2 linked regions of the Homo sapiens genome follow. The protein of the gene in region 1 interacts with the protein of each later gene in a biochemical or structural test. Each region holds a gene or a part of one and is shown on either strand. Other genes may lie near its edges.

What was found. Proteins that work in one complex are often made in the same cells at the same time.
Region 2: the proteins of NR2F2 (region 1) and BCL11A form a complex in vitro, tested with the Homo sapiens proteins (one study listed by BioGRID).

Annotation. Positions count from the first base shown.
Region 1 is NC_000015.10:96,329,549-96,333,499, reverse strand, and holds the start of NR2F2 (COUP transcription factor 2), read right to left. Parts: upstream 2,801-3,951; 5' UTR 1,395-2,800; coding exon 953-1,394; intron 936-952; exon of another isoform or gene 879-935; intron 240-878; exon of another isoform or gene 193-239; intron 1-192. UniProt on the Homo sapiens protein: Ligand-activated transcription factor. Activated by high concentrations of 9-cis-retinoic acid and all-trans-retinoic acid, but not by dexamethasone, cortisol or progesterone (in vitro). Regulation of the apolipoprotein A-I gene transcription.
Region 2 is NC_000002.12:60,543,655-60,547,154, forward strand, and holds part of BCL11A (BCL11 transcription factor A), read right to left. Parts: intron 2,647-3,500; coding exon 2,317-2,646; intron 1-2,316. UniProt on the Homo sapiens protein: Transcription factor. Associated with the BAF SWI/SNF chromatin remodeling complex. Binds to the 5'-TGACCA-3' sequence motif in regulatory regions of target genes, including a distal promoter of the HBG1 hemoglobin subunit gamma-1 gene.

The DNA.
Region 1 (3,951 bases):
GACGGAGGGAGAGGGCGGAGAGAGAGAGGCCGGCTAAAGAGAGAGGAAGCCGGGAGAGGCAGGGAGCAGGCGGCCGGCACTAGCGGAGCCTGGGCAGGGCCTGTAAGGGCCGGGGAAAGCCGGCGAGGCTCGGGCCCAGGCTGTTATCTGACTCCGGACCGGGAGAGTCGCTCTCGCAGAAACACAAAGAAACCCCGGCGTTGGCTCGCCCCAACCCGGAGCCCGCGCCCCGCGCCGAGCGCGCCATTGGCAAAGCACGGCTCGCGGCGCTCGGCGAATTTTATATCACAAAGACCCAACTCGCGCAGAGCGAAAGCAGCCGCCCAGGGCCCCTCGCCCACCCTTTCCTACTTCCTATCGCGCTCTCTTCGTTTCAAAAAGTGAAAGGAAAAAAGAAAGCAGAGGTATTTTTTTTTTTAGCAGGATGTTAATCCACGGAGGGTCACATGAGCGCTGCCCGGGCGGCAGCGTTAATACGGCGAAGTGCATAAAATTGCCATTTGTAATTTGAACCTCCTGTACAAAAGTACAATCTCAGGTTTTTTTTTTTTTTTTTTTGAGAGGGTGGGGGCTGGGGAAAGGGGTGAGGGGGAGGGACATGTTGAACATGCAGGAAAAACAAGGGCAGAGAGAGAGAAGTAAACTAGGCTTTAAAACAACAACAACAAACACCCCATCCCTTGCAGAAAGGCAGACTCCAGTGAACTCACAATCAATGCAAAGGAAATGGAAACAGCCCAAAGAGAGAGTAAAGAAGGAAATCAGTCGGCCAAAGCATGCGGATTTGGGGTCTGGGTTCCAATGCAGAACTCGCTTCTAGTATAAAACCCTTTTCCGCTGCAATACGAAGAGAAGAGCTTGGGGCTTCTTGTCCTTACCCAGAGCAGGCTAGCCAAACGTACCCAGGACCCCGGGACCCAGGACGAGGGAAGGAGAAATGAGAGGCCGATACCTTCCCGTCTCATGCCCACTTTGAGGCACTTTTTGAGGCGGCAGTACTGGCACTGGTTGCGATGGTGCTGGTCGATGGGACAGTTCCGGTTGGCGCGGCACGTGTAGCTCAGGTTCCTCCGCACGCTGCGCTTGAAGAAGCTCTTGCAGCCCTCGCACGTGAACTGGCCGTAGTGCTTGCCGCTCGACTTGTCTCCGCACACCACGCACTCGATGTGTTGCTGCTGCTGCTGCTTGTCGCTACCCGGGCCGCCAGGGCCGCCCTGGCCACCGGCCGCCGTCTGGGCTGGCGTGCTGGCTGGGCCCCCTTGGCCGGGCGTCTGTGGCGTGTGCGGGGCGCCGGGCGGCGGGCCGGGCACGGGCGGCGCCTGCGAGGCCTGGCTGCCCTGTGAGCCGGGCACCTCGTCCTGGGGGTCGCGCCACGTGCTGACTACCATTGCCATATCTATGGGGGCTGCGTCCGGACTTCCTGCTCCCCTGGCTGCGGGCGGCGGCGGGGCGGCGGCGGCTCCCCGGGTCTCGGGCTCCGGCGCGCCGCCTTTTGTGTGTGCGAGGGTGCAAGAGGGCGCGGGAGGGCGCCCCGGGTGGCTCGGGGGCTGGTTGGTTGAGGTTGGTTAGTTTTTCCTTTTTTGTTTTTGCTTTTGCAAAGTTTTGTCGATGGCTTGTCTGGCCCGGTGTGTTTGTTTTGTTTGTTTCTCTCGGCTCAGCTTTGTTGGTTTCGGGGGGCTTTCCGCCGGGAGGGGAGGGGAAGGGGACAGGAGAGCGAGTGGGAGCAGAACGTGGAGAAAGAGGGAGGGGAGGGAGAGCTGAAGTCGATTGTCTGGCTTCAAGACAGAAGTAGGAGGCAAAAAAAAAAATCTCTCCAAAGATCTCGCTCGCTCTCACTCTCTCCCTCCCTCTCTCGTTCACTCTCGCTCTTAGAGCTGGTGTGCAGCCGAGGAGTTGGCGGAGGAGGAGGAGGAGGAGGAGGAGGAAGAGGAGGTGGTGGTGAAGGAGGAGGTAGAGGAGGAGGAGAGGCGACTGTCCGGGGGCCAAGTCCAGGGCAGCCCACAGTCAGCCATTCAGGAAAGCCATCGAAATCAGGAGGACTAGGAGATCGGAGGCGCCGGGTGCGGGCGCGCCCAGGGAGCCAGGCAGGCCGGGGCGGAGGCCGGCGGCCCGCGGAGTGGCCGGAGCGCTGCCCGGGTCCGGGGGAATCAGCATGAAAGTGGTCCGCGTCGGGCGCTGCGCGGCGTCGTCCTGGCGCTGGGCCGCCGCCGCCGCCGCCTGCCCCGGGCGTCCGGCGCGCGCCTCGCTCTCTCCGGCCGCCGCCGCCCGCAGTCGCTGGGTGGAGGCCGCTCGCCGTTCCCTGCGGGCCGCCCGGGCCGCCGCTGCCGCCGGAGCCGCCGCCGAAGCCGCCGGGTCGGGCCCGGAGCCGCTGCGTCTAGCGCCGCCGCCGCCGCTGAAGTCGCTGCTGCCGCTGCTGCCGCCGCCGGAGCCGCTGCTGCTGCTGCTGCCGCCGCCGCCTCACACACATAGGGAAAGAGTCAACTCGCCGGCGGCGGGGGAGAAATGATAAAAGAGAGAGAGGAGGGCAGATCACCACCTAGAAGCACATCCTTCGTGCGCAGAGGGGGGAGAAAAAGACGGAGAGAAAGAATGAAAGAGGGGAAAAAAGGCAGTACGGCACCCGGAGAAAGGAGGCAACTCGGGGAGAGGAGGAGGAGAAGAAGAAAACACACACGCGCGCACGCACACACACACCGCGGAGAGAAAAGAACAGAGAATCAAAGTGATCAAATATGCTAAAAAGGGGGGCGCGGGAGGGAATGCGATTTATAGGCGCCGGGGCTGGCAGAAGTGGCTTCTCCGCGATCAGCTCACTGAGCTCTCTATATAGTGAACTTTGACACGACTGCTGCAACTTAGCGCACGTTGCCATGGCGACGGCGCGCCTTATAAGGCAGCAGCCGGGGTTGGCCTGGCCAGGCGCGCGCGCGCCGCCCCCTCGCCGTCATTGGCCGGACTGCGGCGGCCCCGCCATGGCGGCCGCGGGCGCAGCCCGGTCCTAGCGCGAGCGGCGTCGCCGGCGCGGCGCGGGGCACGCGGGGGACCGGGGGTTGGGGGGGCGGGGACGGGGTGGCCGCGCCGCCGCCGCCGCCGCCGCCGAGAGGGGGATGGGCCCGTGCTGGCCCTGCGAGCGCTGCCTCTGCTCTCCCCACATCCCGCACCCGAGGTTTCCGCCCCGGCGGGGAGACTAGCGCAGCGCGCACACACAACGTCTCTTAAAGGCTCCGCGAGAGGCTTTGGATGGAATCGGGGAGTTTGCCTCTCGCAACTTGGCGATGTCACGAATTCCGCCGCTCGCGCACCACCCGGGACTCCTGGCGCATCTTAGTACCCACAATGCCAAAGAAAAGTTCCCTGGTTTCTTTGCAGAGGGATAGGGAGTGAGGGTGGGAAGGTGCCACGAACTGAGCTTGTAGGCATTTTCCAAACGAAAGAGTTGGCCAGATCCGGGTGATGGCAAACCCTTCTCTTAATTAACTCTGATCACTTGTTCGGTTTGGTGACATATATATATGACATATATTCTTTTCAGAGGATAAAGGCCGTTCTGTTTCTGTTTATTCCTTGTAGGGTTAACATTTCACAGGTATGTGGCCTGACATTTTAATTGCCCAAATAAAGCATCTCGGATGCTGAGAAGCAGAAATAGACTTCATCTGATTGTCATGATGCAATTAGAATCAATTTTCCTCAACTTTACCCTCTCTCGCTGGTTTTAGCTAACTCTCCAGCCAACATCCTGCCACACACCCAGTCATGGTGAGAGGGGAAAGACCTCTGCCCACTGATGGACAGGAGGAGGCAGCCGCCCAGCCTCCCCTGTGCACACCCTCTGTACACACATGTAAGCGCACATGTATCAGATGCACATTTGTCAATGTACACAGACAAAGACTTCACCGACTATGCTTCTAGGTCATAGAACAGTTGAGTACGGACTTCATTGTTCCT
Region 2 (3,500 bases), on another chromosome or scaffold:
CTCACTTTGAGATGTGACCACACTATTTATGTTCAGCCAGTTCCAGGGTGGGAACAGGTGATTAAACACAATGAAAGAAATCAAGACTTTGTAATTATTCATGCACGAAAGGTTTACCTCACCTGGGTCACAGCACTTGTTGTGCGCCCATTGAATATCTTAGACATCTTAGAGAGCTTTTCGTCTCAGTTAAATGATTGATTATTAGCGCTATAAAATATATTTTAAATTTGCTTTTGGTTTTGGCTTCTCTAGGCTCTGCTATTATACTTGTTCTTTAAAAAAATAATAACAGAACCTTTAGACAACCAGGGAGTTCAAGCAAATATCTCTTATTTCCCTACATAGATTCACAACTATAGCAGTAAAAGTCTTAACTATATGTAAGGCCTTCCCCCCAGCATTTAGATTCCTCCTCTAAATACAGAGGCACAGAATTTTTGAGCTGGTTAATCTAAGACTGAATAACCTATTTGGGACCTCAGTAAGAAGTGTGGTTTTAATTCTTGCTTGACAGACACTGTGTTTTGTCTTTTAAACGAGCAGCTCGATATGTAAATACGATGTTACATCACGCAAGTGTTACTCCATATTTGGTGATTTAGCAAGGCTTTGGATCTCCGAAGACGACAAATCCCCTTCCGCCTGCTCTTGCTTCATTAATCATGCCTTACACTTCTGTTCATTTTCCTTCCAGTCACAAGACAACACATGGAAATGGTCATTCCCACATCCTGCTGGGGGGTAGGGGAGATAAAATCTTCACCTACATGTCACATAAGGTAAATGTGGTGGATTCAAGAAATACACTCCACAAATGCAGCTTCCCTAGCAGCAGATTTCCCATTTCACTAAAGGGAAAGTATCTGAGTGCTATCACAGAAAGCACTAAAAAAAGAAAGAAAATGCCATGTTTGGTTTTAATGATCAAATTCTAGAGGGGGAGAGGAGAAATAATATGACATTTAATCCCCTCTAGACCACTGACCTATTATGGTTCAACTTTGTGGTCAAACTAGGTCGGAGAGACAAGTTCCAGTGAATCAATTCATGATATGCACTACCTTTCCTAAAACTGAACAAACCTCTTGCCTTTCGGGAGCTGGGTGGTAGGTAGATGGAAGAAAGCGATCCACCAACAGGCATGGCATGTCTGTCATCACAGAATCTGCATTGACTTTTGTCTAACATGCTCAAGCAAAAAATGTTTTGAGGGTCACTATATAGTGTTACTGTTTATCACTTAGAGAAGGGAATTTAAGTCCCACTGCTAGCCTTTAATTCCTTTTCCCTTGAGCTGCCGAGAAACCCACACACCTAGCTGCCTCCCTGCTAAAATTAACCAAAGGAGGGAGGGCTGTTGAATACGTGTGTGTATTTTTCCAAGAAAATTTTTACATTGTGTTATAGCAGAAACAGTGGAGTCTGGACTGGACATTTGTAAGGGTGACATGTGGCTGTGTAAACCACAAACAAAATCAAGATACATCTGTCAAAACCACATCAGAGACAAGAGAGAGCACAGAGAAGCATTTATCATTTAGCTGAGGAGGCAGGCTGCAGGGAGCAGCCGTTCCTGTCAAACCAACCTTTTGAAATTTCCAACATGCCCTTAAACTTTTCGAGTAAGCATGTCTGTGCGCTTCAGCAACTGCCCTCTCTACTCTGGCCTGGCCAGTCGAAAATGGCATCTTAAAGTCAAGGTCATGGTGTCATCCCACCACGGGGCTGTGTTTAATTACAGCCCCATCCGGGCTGACAGCCAATATGGATCCAAGGCTAGCCCTGAAGCTCAGTTAACTCTTTCCACCACCTCCAACTACCCTGCCAGCCCACTCTACTTCAGGGAAGCCTTGAGAACGAGCTGAACCCCTAAGGAGGCCTGGCCAGATGTTCTGAGTCAAACAAGTCATTGGCTGAACTGCAAATGCCTATATGGCCACTTTGCCTCTGACACGTCACCAAGGCTGGAAATGGACAATGGAAGCTGGACTAGGTGTAGTAAAGCTCAATACTTCAAAATGAGAAGGTGGGGATGGGGAAGAAAAGAAATCCAAAATCGACAGATCCAGAGAGAAGGTGTCTGATGTGTGTACCTATCCTGCCTACATCTGATTCAGTGAGGTGGAAAATATTTATTTTTCTGTGTTCTGGACGTAAGCAACAGAAATGATTATTTTAACATTACAGGGCTGTCATGGACAGTCACATAGAGTAATAGAGAAAGCACTTCACAACTCCTTACTGCTTGGCTACAGCACCTCTGAAAATGAAAAGAAAACATGCAAACAGCTTTTCTCCTTGCTTCTCATTTACCTGCTATGTGTTCCTGTTTGGGGCAAATTCCTCTAGATGACGTTGATAAACAATCGTCATCCTCTGGCGTGACCTGGATGCCAACCTCCACGGGATTGGATGCTTTTTTCATCTCGATTGGTGAAGGGGAAGGTGGCTTATCCACAGCTTTTTCTAAGCAGAGGCTGCCATTGCATTGTTTCCGTTTGTGCTCGATAAAAATAAGAATGTCCCCCAATGGGAAGTTCATCTGGCACTGCCCACAGGTGAGGAGGTCATGATCCCCTTCTGGAGCTCCCAACGGGCCGTGGTCTGGTTCATCATCTGTAAGAATGGCTTCAAGAGGCTCGGCTGTGGTTGGAGAAACAAAAGCACAATTATTAGAGTGCCAGAGAGGACAGAAAGGGGAGAAGCACATCTCAACCCCATGCCATCCCACCACATCATGTAAAGTGTTTCTAGGCTTCTCTATATAATACCCAGAAAATGTGAGCATACAAAAAGTACAAGGATGTGAAGGTTATCAACCAGAGAGCAAATTTGTCAATGAGGCAAATCATCACATATGTAAAGAAAACAGTCTTCCTTGCATAACTCCAGAGAACACACACACACACATATACCCATGCACACACCCACAGCAACAAATGTGTCTGGTTTGTAAGTTTAGAAAGAATGCTACTTAAATAGTTAACACAGGGAACATAAAGAAAGCTTAAATAATAACTACAAGAAAAACTGGTTAAAAAAAAAAGTGGATAGAAACCAAATTTGTTTCTTTTTTCCTATACACCAAGTTGTCCATTGTGCCAAAGAATGAAAGGAGAGGTGAATAAACACACACACCCTTTGTGTGTGAATGTATATACTCCTAAGTAAACAGACATGGCTTCATAAATTAGAAAGCTACTATGTCACATGAAAAATGTGCCACATTTACACTGCTGTAATAAGAAAACGACTGCATGCACCTATGAAACGGATCTAAATAATAATCATGTCGCAGCATAATTCACACTGCCAAAAACCTTTCTGCTCTCACTCTCAGCAGTGCCACAAAATCAAAGAAATACCAAATGCACGGGCAGTATTTCTCAGACACATTAGCTAAATGGGATACTTTTGAGTACTTAAGAAAATAAGCCAATTAGTCATTTTTTTTTTATTCTGAGAAATGGAATGCCTATAATATTCTAAACATGTTT